3 separate regions of the Homo sapiens genome follow, and all the other regions are reported to be linked to region 1. Evidence: microRNA targets listed by miRTarBase, many of them from high-throughput screens and not tested one by one. Region 1 holds a microRNA gene; each other region holds the end of a gene's coding sequence.
What was found. The annotated mature microRNA hsa-miR-548g-3p reads AAAACUGUAAUUACUUUUGUAC and lies in region 1 at 2,779-2,800, opposite strand. An mRNA with a match to its seed (bases 2 to 7 or 8) in the 3' UTR can be bound and repressed. Matches are read on the target gene's strand: a 7mer-m8 pairs with bases 2 to 8, a 7mer-A1 pairs with bases 2 to 7 and ends in A, and an 8mer does both.

Region 1 (5,074 bases):
CTCATTTTATATTTGTAGTTTTCAGTTATTTTTCTTATATAATCCTCCCTCAATTGTTTAAGATTTAGGGTCTTTAAAATATGTATTCATTTCTTCACCACACATTTGCAGAAGCATTCCTGCATTGCTTTTTTGTTTTGTTTTGTTTTTTAACAAATATAACCAAACACAAAGAGCAACAAAACACTTCAAGCTGGTTACCCAGTGACTATGCTTGAAATCCTTCAAAGGCTTCCTATGATACTTTGAATAAAATCCAGACTCCTTACTGTATTCTGCAGAACCCTCCATGATCCAGCAATTTCTTCCTCAATCCCAAATCATTCTGTTCTCCCTCTAACCCATATTCTGATCACACCAGCCTCCTTGCAGCACCTCTGCATTGCCAATCTCTTTCCTACCTCAAATCCTTTGGTCGTTGTTTCTGCTATTGCACCCTTCTTCCCCTTTTCACATTGCTGGCTCCATCCTCTTTGGGGGCTTCTGGCCCTACCTGATTACTCTAAATAAATAATCATGCTCTCTATCTCCTCACTCCCACTCGGGGTTCTCTATTATACCCCCATGTTCTACTTTTTTTTTTTCTTAGTAACTGTCCATCTCCACTGCAATCCTGCAAGCTCCATCAAGGCGGCAGTGGTGTTTGTTTTGTTCATCACTACAGAGGATCCAGCTCCTAGTCAGTGCCTGATGTGTAGTGCCCGCTCCATCAAACTGTGTGCAGGCCGGGCGCGGTGGCTCACGCCTGTAATCCCAGCACTTTGGGAGGCCGAGGCAGGGGGATCACAAGGTCAGGAGATCGAGACCATCCTAACTAACACGGTGAAACCCCGTCTCTACTTAAAAAAAACTAGAAAAATTAGCCGGGCGTGGTGGCGGGCGCCTGTAGTCCCAGCTACTAGAGACGCTGAGGCAGGAGAATGGCGTGAACCCGAGGGGTGGAGCTTGCGGTGAGCCGAATCGCGCCACTGCACTCCAACCTGGGCGACAGAGTGAGACTCCGTCTCAAAAAAAAAGAAAACAAACAAACAAACAAAAAACTGTGCAAAGAATGGTGAATGAGTCCTGCAATCAATTAATTTCCCAGTAATTGAACATAACTCTTTAAAGCACAGAAACTAATAAGAACATCAACAATAACAATTTCGGGGCCGGGCGCGGTGGCTCACGCCTGTAGTCCCAGCACTTTGGGAGGCCGAGGCGGGCGGATCACGAGGTCAGGAGATCGAGACCATCCCGGCTAAAACGGTGAAACCCCGTCTCTACTAAAAATACAAAAAATTAGCCGGGCGTAGTGGCGGGCGCCTGTGGTCCCAGCTACTTGGGAGGCTGAGGCAGGAGAATGGCGTGAACCCGGGAGGCGGAGCTTGCAGTGAGCCGAGATGGTGCCACTGCACTCCAGCCTGGGCGACAGAGCGAGACTCCGTCTCAAAAAAAAAAAAAAAAAAAAAAAAACAATTTCGGTGGAAATCTTCCCATGTCTTTTAAAATTGACAACTTGAATGTAATATAACATTTTCCTGGCAATTCTTTGCTTATTACAGGTTGGTGACTGTGCCCTGGGTGGTAGAGTTTGCCAGATAAGCCATCCCTGAATCAGTGAAGTGTGATTGAACAATTAAATGACTAAAATGGTATAGCCTCCATACCCATTTGCATTCTTTGCACTTCTAGTCTAAAAAGGGCAAGACAAATGCAATTGTGTTGTGGAGAAATATTTGGATTCTTTTGGAGAGAAAAGGAAAATCAAAGAAAAATATTATGCATGGTATGAATTGGGAGTTTATAATTCAGAAATTTACTAAAAATAATGACAAGAACCGAAAGTGAAAAAAGTAGCTTTATTTTTAGATATCTCTCACATGTGAGAGAATAACCTGATATTGGCCAATAACCAAATTAATTATTTGTTTCTCCATGAAGACTCCTTTCTGAATTAGAAGGAGAAAGAGGTGAATTGAAGAGCAGATTGAAAATGGAGATATAAAATCAATGACTCTTTTTTAAGGATGAGTCATCATGGCTTTTCTAGATGATTGATTGTGAAGTGGAAGAAATAGAACGAATTAAACTATAAGCATTTGAGCCCAGTAGTTCTCTGGGGCACTCTTCTCCACTATTTGAACTATCTTTATTTCATAAGCTAAGACTAAAAACATTGCCAAAGTGAACTGGTTCTCCAGAGTTTCTAGAGTGCATTATTATCATTCTCTAAAATGAAAATACATCTGATACTTCAAAAGACACATTGTTATGTTTTTTAATGTTTTGCTTATATTTCATCTCATTTTGAAAATGATTGAAGTAGCTTATAATAAATACACATAAACAATAAGCAAGTAAATAATTGCAATTGGAAACTAATTCTAAGTGAAAGACAATTATATCTAAGCTAATATCAAGAATGGACAATGACATTACATTTAACTCTGAGCTTTCTAGATGCCAAAATAAGGGCCAGTGATGAATTATGCATTGTTTATCTGAACAAAAGAATTATTTATTTAAGAGTTACACATCTTCTAAGACATATTTATGCATTTATTGCATGGATCCTTTTACAAATGCATTTAGACAACATAATAGACAACCACAAACAACTCCTGTCCAAATGTTTATAGGTTCACTAATGCATACCTACATATTAGTAAATAATTTATTTATGCACAAGTATGCTATGTGTGCATACATGTATATTTCTGAGTTACAGCATGTAATCTATATACACACATGTACATAACCATACATACAGATATACATATATGAAGTATTATGTTGGTACAAAAGTAATTACAGTTTTGCCATAGAACGTAATGCAAAAACTGCAATTACTTTTGCACTAATCTAATAACTCAGAGAAAGTGTTTCTCTAAAGGGGTAATGAAGTTGTGTAGATTGCTGGCAATGATGGCCCCAATTCTTTTCATCCCTGCGTGCTAACACTTGGTAATGTGATTTTGTCACTCCCTTGTCAAGTGGTAGAGTATAGTTCTCTTCCCCTTGCATCTGAGCTGTCTCTGTGGCCAGCTTTGGCCAATAGAAATGACTTTGTATGGCTTCCTAGCCTGGGCTTCAAGAGGCCTTGCAGCTTCTGCTCTCACACTCTAGTCCAGGCTAGCCCTCTTATGGATAAAAGCACATGCTAGCCCTCTTGAGGATAACAACCACCCTCAGAGAGAAGCCCAGCTGATGGTCAGCACCACCTGCCAGACAGTTGAAGAAAGCTTCTTTAGGCCATCTCACTCCAGTCGAGATACCAGATAACTACAGCTGCATGAGTGATCCCAGGAGAAGCCAGCAGAAGAACTGCCCAGCTGCAAACAACTCAAACTGGTAACCACCAGAATCATAAGCTAAATAAATTATTGTTTTAAGCCATTGAGCTTTAGGGTGGTTTTTATATAGCAACTGTTGATATAAGATTCAAGGTATAAAATTTCCTTATTTAATAACAGAAAAAAAGTGGAGTAATCTAGGGAACTATGGTTGCTCACATCACATTTCCCTAAGTTCTTTAAGGAGTTCTGAGAAAAGGGAGATGAAGAATTTACTTAGCTACATGTTTTTACCCCTTGGGTAGAATAAGTGTAAACTTACTTTTTTTTACAATACTTGCTCTTCTGACTTTTAAAAAGATAGATTTTAGTTAAAGGAAAGAATTCCTAGCAACAGCCCACATATTTTCTATTTCCTATTGCAGTCAATATGTTCCTAACTTTTTGGCCTGAATTTTCCAGGATAGTCCTGAGTTGTCATCATCAATCTATGCATTATTAGGCCTAATCTTCTGATTTGGAGTTGGAACAATATAGAAGCTATGGTTTGGCTGTGTCCCCACTCAAATCTCATCTTGAATTCCCACGTGTTGTGGAAGGGACCCAGTAGGAGGTCATTGAATCATGGGGGCAGGTCTTTCCTGTGCTGTTCTCAAGACAGTGAATAAGTCTCACAGATCTGATGGTTTTATAAGGGGGATTTTCTCTGCACAAGTTCTCTGTCTTTGCCTGCTGCCATTCATGCATGATGTGACTTGTTCCTCCTTGCCTTCCACCATGACTGTGAGGCATCCCCAGCCATGTGGAACTGTAAGTCCATTAAACCCTTTCTCCTATATAAATTACCCAGTCTCTGGTATGTATCAGCAGCATAAAAACTAACTAATACAGATGCTATATCTATATATTTTGAATACCAAAAGTATAATTGGCAAGTTAGGCATTTTCTTAAGGCATTTTCAAAGCCTGATCTGTATTCTCGCCAGATGGACAACACCCCCCAACTTTTCACAAAAGCATGTTATTCTTTTAATGCATGCAGATCAACAAAGCATGCACATTGAAGGACGTGCTGTCACTGGTATTGAAGATAAGACTCACGTGGACTGTGGCAAAAATAGAAATGGGAGACCAAAAAATATGTCTAATCTATTAGTCCAACCTAGTGATGATGGTGACTTGAACTAGAGTGTTGGCAATGGAACTGGGGAGAAGGGATGACTTCAAGGTTTTCTTTGAAATAAAAATGACAGGCCTCACAGAGAAAAGAAACGAGTAACCACTAATTCTGCTCTGAACAATTAAGTGGGTGGTAAAGGCACAAGGTGTGTGTGTGTGTGTGTGTGTGTGTGTGTGTGTGTGTGTGTGTGTGTAGGCAGGTTAAGTTTGAGATGCTTGTGAGACATCCAAGTATACATGTCAAGTATATAGTTAGATAGATGGGCCTGGAATGCAGATGAAAAATTAAAATGGGAATATTAAGTGTAGTGGGCAAAGGGGCTAGCAGAGGATAGTGAAGTTAAAGAAATCAAGTGTCAAATCAGTTAGAGCTTTATAGGATCCATAGTAAGAGCTTTGGATTAATTCCAGTGGCTTTGGAAACTATGGGAATTTTTTTAATAGGGATGTAAAAAATCTGAGTTACATTATAAAAATTACTTTGGCTGCAGTGAGAAGTAATGTGTGGAAAGCCAAGTTATTATAAACTAGACATGATGGTGGCCTGAGGTAGTATGTTAACAGTGAAGACAGTGAGCAGTGGCTGGGTTGGGGACATGACTTGAAGGAAGAACCAGCAA
Region 2 (5,074 bases), not on the chromosome of region 1:
TAGCTTTCCTTATATCTCAGTTTTTAAGAACATTGATTGATAGATAATTTCAGATACCTCAGTTGCTCCAAGCCAGTTTTGTTGCCTCCATGAAAACTTCTGTGGCATCATTAGCATTACCTGGTGCACGTGTTCCTGGGGCAGAACACAATAATATTAACCCAGCATCTTGCAGCTCACAAAGCAGTCAGCCACGTTCCTGCCTCATCTTCTTAAGAATCTTAGAAAGATAGTAATATTACCATTTTATAAATGAGGAAATATTTATGAGTCTTTGATAGGTTAAGTGGCTTATCCAAAGTCGTGAAACTAATTGCAGAGCTCAGCACTTGGACCAAGTTTCTAAATTCCCTGTCCACTACACTCCATGATTACTTCTTTTTTGATCTCTGTGAAGTCCATCAGAGTTTTAGTCCCAGAGAAGGTGCTCTTCACAGCCTACATGAAGTCAGAATGAATATAGTCTATGGTAAGTCCTGTGATGACAGTCTATTTCTGCATAACCCCTATGAGTTGCAAATTTCTTGACAATTTTGGCCCTATTTACATGAACTGGACCACTTAGCTGCCTCAGATTTTTTTTTTTGAAAAAACCTGAAATAAATAAATGTACAGCCTGCTTTGACCTCATGGTTTGTCTCGATCAGAGGATGGATATAGGAGAGTAGAGGAGAACCTTCAAGTTTCTTCCTGGTGATAGCCATTTCAAATGCATAACAACTGGCGAGCCATCCAATGTCCTATAAACACAGCTGTCTGTGTTTTCTCTATATGCAAGGCAATTACTAGAATTGGAATGTCCAATATACTAGCCACCAGTCACATGTTGCTATTTACATTTAAATTTGTTAATTACAATGAAATAAAATTTAAAATTCAGTTTCTTTGTCACATTAGCCAAATTTCAAGTGCTCAACAGCCACATGCAGCTAATGGCTACCATACTGGATGGGACAGACATAGAGCATTTCCATAATTGCAGAAAGTTCTTTGGATAGCATTGTCCTACACTACCTTATGCAAATAAATTACCTCAAACATTGAGTATATCGTTGTGACTTCCAGAAAGCTCAGGCTCTTGCCACACAAAAAGCTCCCCTGTACCTCTTGACAGGTGTGACTTGGAGTAAGTGTGGGAAACTACCAGTTACAGCTATGAAGCAGCACCTGAAAGAATCAGGAGACTAAACAAAACTCACACCCCACAAATGACAGCCACACTGCCCATTGCCCCCTCTCTGTGGGGTGAGGTGTGCCCACCAGAATGCTGTCATTGGTGGACCTCACACCCAGCCTCCCTGCCTGTCCAGCTCAGCACTGATGGAATCTGAATGAACCTGAGTGTATGACGACTCATTTCTGGGGCTCACAGTGGTGAGAAATGAAAAGGGGAAAAGGCAGGAAATAAAATTGCATAGTGAGGTCCTGTTCACTCATGAAGACCATCTATCTCAAAGCTCCATGACTCAAAGTTTCTCACGTTTCTTTAGTATAATTCTCAGGATTATAGATCAGACTTGTACGCCCAGGCTTAGAATGTGGTCAGGGAATCAGTAATGTATTCCTCCTTGAATGCTCATTCATAGATTTGTCTATTCGCTCCTCCTGTTAGGGAATCCACGAGGGGACCCAGAAAAGCCTGGCATCGCTTCCTGTCAGCACTGAGTGTTCCCCTTCCTCAATCTTCTCTGTGATGCTTCCCTACATATTTCCCAAAAGACATCATAAGCAGGAAAATCTTCCTCAAACACTATTTTGAAAGAAAAAGAAATGGAGACCAATAGACATAGATAGACACCCTCCCTGGGTATCAGTTTGGCTTGGGTTTAGCTACTAGAGCAGCACAGTCACATAGAAATATGAGAGCCACATATGCAATTTTAGACTTTCCAGTAGCCACGTTAAAAAGATAAAAAGAAGCATGAAACTAATGTTAATATTTTATTTCACCCAATACATCCAAAATATTATCATTTTTGACACACAATATACCAAAACTACTGAAATAGTATTCTTATTATTCATATTAAATCTCCAGAATCTAGTGTGATTTTATGCTTATACCAATTATAACAGCACATCTTGATTTAAACTAACCCCATCTTAAGTGGTTGATGGCCACATGTGGAAAGTGGCTACGTGGTGGATAGCGCATGTCTCCAGGAATCCAACTATGAAATGGTCTTCTCTGGTTCTCAGAGGAGAATCTAGTTCAGTGAGTTCTATTTAAAAAAATTTTTTTCAAATTGAATCCCATTTCAGTAACCTGACCCATTTCTAACATCTATAGGCCCTTTTGTATTTTATCACCATCCCAATAGTGTTTATAAATGTTTCCCAATTACCATAATTATGTTAAATAACACCCAACTCTCAGTCCAACCTCTGCCGAATATACACCTCCTCCAAATCAAAACACTACTCCCTTTTCGTCATTACATTTTAGTTCACTTCCAATTTGTGAATTGTGTTCTATTTCCAACAGATTTGCACTAATTTTGCAAGAAAAATGCTGTAAACTGCCACAGCAAACAACAACATTTTTACGTTCATCTAATCTTTCTTCCAAAGGACTTGGAGCTCTGGACAGATTTCAGTTCATTCTTCCTATGTAACCCATTTGGTAGAAAAGTGAAAAAATAATAATAATAAAAATCCTAGGAGAAATAGTTGAATTGTCTTGTTGCTAAAACAATTGTCAACCCCAGTCTAAGTCTTAGGAAGCAGGACAATGCTTTATTTTTAACCATGCGCAAGACACAACCTTGCTTCACATTCTCTTTCAGTTCCTTGGCCCATGAAAGAAAATCAGTCACCAGTAAATCCAACCTCCCCGCTCATTCCTCTGAGAGAGATGGTGGAAGGATAAAAGTCTTCTAAGATCCAGCCTGAATGCAATTAAACAGAAATAAGCGGTTCAGTTACCCCAACCCCAGCACAAAGTCGTCAGGGAGTGAATAAAAGGGTTCGAAGAAGTTAGTTTGAAGGTGTTTATTTTTTAAACCCTCTATCACTCCCAGCCCCCCTTTTTCCCCTAGGAAGAGTCCCTATTTTAAAAATCCACATTTTCTTTTTAGTGGGAAACGTTCTTTTTTCAAAGGCTCAAGAGTGTATTGATGCAGAAAAGGTAGATCAAGGCCCAAATGCTACGACTTGGCTCCCTGTGTGGGCATGTGCGTTTCCTGGGGCTTCCCCAGCACACACGGCCGGAAGAGGCTACAGGCCTGTATCAGGCTGTCTAATGGATGAGTATGTCACAGCAAAAGGAAACTTGAAATGCCTGCCCAGAGAATAAAATCTGAAGTTTGCTGACTCCCTTGGTGCCAGGGCCTTCTTTGTGGGACTTTCAGCTCCAAGAATTTCCTACAAGTTCCCTAGACAAAACTCCTGCTCCTCCCAGACTAGCCTCAACATCCCCTTGGTGCTCCCAGGCCACTTCATCACAGATAAGCCTATGCCAACTACCTCACCCCAAACTGTCGTCTCTTCCTGAAGGCCTGTGTATGTCTCCTTCTCTCCTTACTATAATACCTTTTCATGACAACATTGTCTCCCCATTTAACTGTAAGTTCTTGAGGGCAGATACCAAGATTTAGTCACTCTCAAATCTCCCCATAGAGGCTGCTACCAGGACTTACTTATAACCTGCCTTTGAATGAGTGAAAGTTACTGAAAATGACGTGAAAAAATGAGATGAGGATGGCTCTGCAGTCATGCCATCCTCATCATCAACCACAAAACCTTGTAGCCCAAAATGCTGGCCATTATGAGGAATGTGTCTCTCAGAGACATAGGATCTGCTCAAACTGCCAGATTTAAAACCAGGTCAAGATATTTTTTAATTTTGCATTTATGATCAAGATCCACGTTACTCACCCTAGGCCTGCCATAATGCAAAATGGAATAGAACGAAAAGGCCAAGGAAATGAAGATGGAGAAGAGGATGACATTTATTCACTCAACTGAACACACACACACATACACACACACACACACACGCAGCACTGATGGAGAGTACAGCTGCTTATATATTCATCTATAATAGCAAAGACAAAAGTGTATCTTCCAGAAGATGCCTCTGGTTGCTAACCAGTCTCTGTGAAGAAGCTGCAGTTACCCAGGCTTCTGTAACTCAGGACATTGAAGTAGTCATGCAGCTCGGCACAGTCCTCTCCCCGCTGCTCTCCACAGAGCCCAGCAGGTGCAGCTTCTGCCTGGACACAGCTTCCTGGGGGTGAGGGAGCACTGGGGCTCCATTCCTCCTGTCCAGCTGATTTTCTCCTGAGGTCACCTTCCACAGAATGGATTCTGAGGGCTTTCTTCTAAAAACAAACAAACTACAAAGTGAGTATGTGGGGATGTTATTCAACAGTTAATCCCCAATATGACATCTCTCTCTTCCTTTCTTACACACATGCACACCAGCAAACTTATGTTCTTACCAACACCAATTCCTTAGCCCTTAATTTCTCAACCGCGTTACAGCTAGATTTAAATGCTAACTAGTCCATGGAAACTGCACTTACTACATATACCACGTGCCACACACCTTGTTACTTCCTGTTCACTAAGCTTAGTGAGGCAGCTTTCCATTCTCTATTTTCTTGTACTGTTTACTGCACTTGACTCTGTCGACCTCTTACTTTCTGAAATGTTCTCTTTCTCTGGATCCTTTGGCATCACTCTCTCCTGATTTTCTTCTCCTCCTTTGAACCCCCACCTTCGTCTTCAGCCAGGCCTGCCCCTTTTCTCTTTGCACATCAGCTCCCCAAACCGTGGGGTTCCCCAGGGTTCTGCTCTCTGCTTTCTCTCACGCTAAACATGCTCTCTGAGTGATTTCATGAGCATCTACTTTCTTACATCTACAACCACCATCTGTCCTCTGAAGATGCCCAAATCTCTATCTAAACTAGCCCAGGCTTCTGCCCTGAGCTCCAGATGCAGGTGTCCACCTGTCCACTGGGCATCATCACCTGATGACCCACGGCAAGCTCAGACTCAAATTGTCTCAAACGACACCATCACATTCCTGCCCCAACAAACCACTCCTGCCCCTATATTCACTGCCCTGGTT
Region 3 (5,074 bases), not on the chromosome of region 1:
AAGTGGCTTTCCTCTTCTTTCCTTGTCCTAGCCAGCCTTTAATTTTAAACGCTGTAATTAACAATTCGCAGTGGTCAATTTCCTTTATTCTGCAAGATTCGGCTTTGAGAGGCATCCGCCCTCTTTGGTCCACAGCGTTTTGAAATATGGGGAGGAGGGGCGCGGGGGGTGTCGCCTCTTTTTCTGTAGAAAGAGGAAGCTCGTGAGCGCGGAACGGCAGCAGTAGGAGAGCGAGAAGGGTTTTTTTCAGGCTGCGGGTCGGAGGGCAGAAGTGCAGTTCCCAGCCCAGAGACAGCGGGGCGGGTGGCTCTTCCTCACGCTCGCTCTTGGCTTGCTCCCTGCAGCTTTTCCTCCGCAACCATGTCTGACAAACCCGATATGGCTGAGATCGAGAAATTCGATAAGTCGAAACTGAAGAAGACAGAGACGCAAGAGAAAAATCCACTGCCTTCCAAAGAAAGTGAGCTCCGACCCACCCCCATCTTTAGAAAGGCTGGGTGGGAGCGGCCGGTGGGAGGGCGGGAGGCTGGGAGCGGCCGCGGGAAGAATTCGGGAGGGGGGAGTGCGGGGGAAGAGCCGACAGTTGATGAATGTGGCTTGCAAAGGTTAATTAAAAATGGTTTTGCAGCCAACAAACACGGGGCTTTAGTAATTTAGTAATGGAATATTTAATATGCCATATTAATATACAAACATTTATCCATTAAAATGTATTTCTATTTAGTATATTCAATATACATATTTTATTCCATTGTGGAATACCGTGTAGAATGTTTATGATTTGAAAAGATGCTTTAAATGAAAGCCCTTTAGTCTGTACTGAATCCTTTAATCATCTCCCTCCATCTTTTTTTTTTTTTTTTTTCTGGTCACAGCGATTGAACAGGAGAAGCAAGCAGGCGAATCGTAATGAGGCGTGCGCCGCCAATATGCACTGTACATTCCACAAGCATTGCCTTCTTATTTTACTTCTTTTAGCTGTTTAACTTTGTAAGATGCAAAGAGGTTGGATCAAGTTTAAATGACTGTGCTGCCCCTTTCACATCAAAGAACTACTGACAACGAAGGCCGCGCCTGCCTTTCCCATCTGTCTATCTATCTGGCTGGCAGGGAAGGAAAGAACTTGCATGTTGGTGAAGGAAGAAGTGGGGTGGAAGAAGTGGGGTGGGACGACAGTGAAATCTAGAGTAAAACCAAGCTGGCCCAAGGTGTCCTGCAGGCTGTAATGCAGTTTAATCAGAGTGCCATTTTTTTTTTTGTTCAAATGATTTTAATTATTGGAATGCACAATTTTTTTAATATGCAAATAAAAAGTTTAAAAACTTAGCTGGTGTGTCTGTTTGGTTTCTGGAAGGATCGCGGATGAAACCTTTGCAAAGAGGCCTACCTCTTGGTCCATTGGGGAGGGACAAGCATCTGGTGACTGGATAAATTCCCTTATGGCATAGAAATGGGTTTCACCCAGGTATGCAAAATACCTTGTCTATACTAGGAGATCATTTTCTCAGGCTGATTGAATTCCTAGTATGAATTGTGTGAGAGCTTTAATAAAAATATCTTTGCAGTTCTTACGGGTTTTGATAAGCTGACATTGCACGTGCTCAAGAAAATGAAGGTGATAATTTACAGCACAGTATCTTATTTCAGGGTATCAAATTGAACTTGGTTATTTAACCAAGTGCTAGCATTAACATAGATGAGTAAAAATTACATTTTTAGCAGCTGCGTTAAGAAGGAATTTAGGACTTGAGCTTACTCATTTTCTAATGGCCGGTTTCTAATCAGAGTTCAATATTTACAATTGCTTTAATGAATACAGTTAAGATTAGTGAACATGATTTTAAATTTATTGGGTCCTCTTCATTTGAATAATCTTTGGATTTAAAAGATACTTATTCGATCTTTTGGGTTTAAAGGACACTAGCAGGACACAGGTGAGATTTGTACTAAGTTTAAATCCAGCGGGAATTAATTGACTCACATTTAGGTCTTTGAGTCCTTGATAACTTCTCAATCATCGGAAGTAGTTATTTTCACTGATGGGTAAAAGCAAAGTCCTTGGTGCGGGAAGACGGAAACAACGTCAATTTTTTAAGAGTTAAAAAAAGATTTGCCATTCTATAAGGTCCTTAATGGATTCCTCGGTTCTGTAGGGAAGGGTGGAGACTTTTTTTTTTAAATAAGCACCAGTTTTATTAAGCCGAAACAACAGCATTTAAGAAGGCTCTTAGTTCACTGAATGTTCTGCAAAGCTAAATTTTACAACGCAAATGTCCAAGAAGTTAAACATTTTTCTCTCAAAACCGATTTATGAAAATACCCTTTTTGAAGCGGAGGGGTAGGGAAAATTGTTGATCACTATTAAATTGGTTGCTTTCATTTCCTTTGCTCAACGCTTATTTTGAGAAATGCACAGGAAACCATTTACCTGTGGTTTAGACAATCAAGTAGACCATCAGGCTAGAAGCCTTGCTCTGCGTTGCAAGGGAAGGGGTGTGTACAGGCTGCTGCAGAGGCTGCTACAAAACCTGAAGCGCCACAGCCCGCTTAGCTCCGTGAAGAGAGGAGTAAGCACAAAGGTTCTGGAGCCATCTCAAGATGGAGACGGGCCTGGAGCCCTGTAGTTTTCTTGCCTATAGGGAAGGGTGTGGGCACAGTGCAAATGCCCAAGGCACAAAGAGAAACCATTCCCACGTGGGCTTTTGCTGTGTGCCTTTTTCAAACAATGCAAAGACGAAAGAAGATTTTAAGAAATTAACACAGCTCCAGTGTTCCTCAGTTGAAGAAGGAACATTTAGGAAAAGGGATAATTCATGGACTAAAAGACCTTTCTCCCCTAGAGGGACGAAGCTAAAACATAGCACAAAAAAAAAAAAGTAAAATGGTAATGATTGAATTCAGGCTGCTTGACGTGTGGAATGGGGAAATTCAGAAGCTTCTGCCCATATCACACTCTGTACACTTAACTGCTGCACACGGGGATGGGAGAGAATTTATTTTTTTAATTTTGATGGGGGATTCTTTGTTTTTCCCAAGAGAGATTCTTCCCAGAAGGGCTGGGGGTATTTATGAGTCAGTGTGGGGATATATGTTCCTGCTATGTAGGACTTGGGAGTCGACAGTATTTTTCACAGATACAAAGAGGACATTAGGTTTACCCTTAGAATGAGAGAACGTTGGGATTGAAGGAGACCCTATGACTGTTTCTCTTCCCCCCAGGACAAAACAGGCCAAGGTAGCTTAAGTAAGCCCCGAAGGTCACACAGTTTAGTCTGGGATTTCTGCAAATTTTGAATTGACCAAGACAAATAAAGCAAAAATAAAGGAAATAAAAAGAGACTCACTAAAGGACCTTTGAGATTGAGCTGGCTTCATTTTGAAATCTCGCAAATTTGTCAACCATCACAGCCACATTTGCAGCCTTCCAGTGGTTGGAATTTTAAAGCTATTTTATTCTTTCAGGAGAACAACACAGCTTTTGGGCTGTGTATGCAAAGATTGAGTGTGTATGGGGGGGAGGTGGGGTTCAAAATCTTCACAAACTTTGAGTCTCTCGGCTGTGTAAGAGACCCATTATAGTCAGAATCAGGTATTGTCTCCTTTAAATGCACAAGGAAGGTCTGTTTATTTTCCCCCAAAGAAGCATCTAATTCCTCAAGAGACAAAAAGAAAATATTTTTGCATTTTTTTTTTCTAAACATATGGGGTCAATTTTGTGCTAACGAGAAAGAACAGAGCGTTTTGGAGACAATATTACAGACAAAGAGTAAAAATAAAAAATCTTGAGTCTTTCTTTGTTCAAGAATGGAAACTTCAAACGTTGTTTAAAAACGTTGAAAGCACTCAATGCTTCATTTACCCTAGTAGCCTTCACTAGCCTAGCAAGAAAATAAGAAAAAACCACCCTCCGCACTCCACACTCCCCAAATCCTTTCTTTTCGATTACACTTTCAAGAGTGGCTTACACTGCAATCTAAGAGAATCAAACACACCAATTTGGGACTCAACTAGGTTTTCTCTGCATGTAATGAGAAGGGGTGAAATTACAAATGTAAGGCAGAGATATACAACAAAGCAAGCTAGGAAGAAAATATGTTTCTAAGACCTGTATTTACCTAGTTTATATTTTCCTTGGACACTTGCATAGCATTTTATTTCTGTAATCACATTGTCGTGCTAATACCATCTTTGCCCCTGGCTTCTGAGACTTTTGTAGGCAGGGCTGGTGCATGCCACATTCACTGTGTGCATACACCACGCACTCTTCCTTCTGTGCCTCAAAGCACACTTCTCCCCTTACTTGATGGAGACTTCATTTTTTTTTATTTTTATTTTTTTTGAGATGGGGTCTCTCTCTGTCACAGGCAGGAGGGCAGTGGCGCAATCTCGGCTCACTGCAACCTCCGCCTCCCAGGCTCAAGGGATCCTCCCACCTCAGCCTTCCGAGTAGCTGGGACCACAGGCATGCGCCACCATGCCTGGCTAATTTTTTTTTTTTTATTTTTTATTTCGCCATGTTGCCCAGGCTCGTCTCAAACTCCCGAGCTCAAGCAATCCAACTGCCTCAGCCTCCCAAAGAGCTGGGGTTACAGGTGTGAGCGACCACGCCCAGTCGAGACTTCATTTAACATGCTGGTTTGGGGGTCCCTTTGAACATGTGAATGTCATGTTAGACATCACAATTTTAAATATGTTTTTAACAAATATATTTAAAGAGCTTTGAACAGCAATTTGCCTGACTTTGGTTGTGCTGAGTTTTTTGTTTTTGTTTTTGTTTTTTGAGATGGAGTCTCACTCTGTCGCCAGGCTGGAGTGCAGTGGCACAATCTCGGCTCACTGCAACCTCCACCTCCTGGGTTCAAGCAATTCTCCTGCCTCAGCCTCCCAAGTAGCTGGGACTACAGACGCATGCTGCCATGCTGGGCTAATTTTTTTTTTTTTTCTGTATTTTAACAGAGACGGGGGTTTCACCATGTTGCCTAGGCTGGTCTCGAACTCCTGAGCTCAGGCAATCCGCCCGCCTCGGCCTCCCAAAGTGCTAGGATTACAGGCTTGAGCCAACGCGCCTGGCCGG

Region 2: miRTarBase lists TIGIT as a target of hsa-miR-548g-3p. Seed matches in the 3' UTR shown: 7mer-m8 at 3,474-3,480 and 7mer-A1 at 2,516-2,522.
Region 3: miRTarBase lists TMSB4X as a target of hsa-miR-548g-3p. Seed matches in the 3' UTR shown: 7mer-A1 at 1,229-1,235.

Annotation. Positions count from the first base shown.
Region 1 is chr4:147,341,865-147,346,938 of GRCh38, forward strand. It overlaps MIR548G (microRNA 548g), which reads right to left and starts at 2,853; the gene lies at 2,765-2,853.
Region 2 is chr3:114,307,143-114,312,216 of GRCh38, reverse strand. It overlaps TIGIT (T cell immunoreceptor with Ig and ITIM domains), which reads right to left. Exons shown (of 4, transcript NM_173799.4): 4 at 1,929-4,322. The coding sequence ends at 4,086. It overlaps LOC124909411 (a long non-coding RNA gene), which reads right to left and starts at 138. Exons shown (of 2, transcript XR_007096008.1): 1 at 58-138. RefSeq lists enhancers at 3,112-3,291, 3,462-3,511, 4,265-4,364, 4,695-4,774, 4,895-4,964.
Region 3 is chrX:12,975,902-12,980,975 of GRCh38, forward strand. TMSB4X (thymosin beta 4 X-linked) reads left to right here. Exons shown (of 3, transcript NM_021109.4): 2 at 345-460; 3 at 876-1,322. The coding sequence starts at 361. The coding sequence ends at 910. Among named protein-coding and RNA genes, the nearest start is that of TMSB4X, 3.3 kb to the left of the region's middle. RefSeq lists enhancers at 1-766, 1,902-2,021, 3,622-3,681 and a cis regulatory region at 2,375-2,667.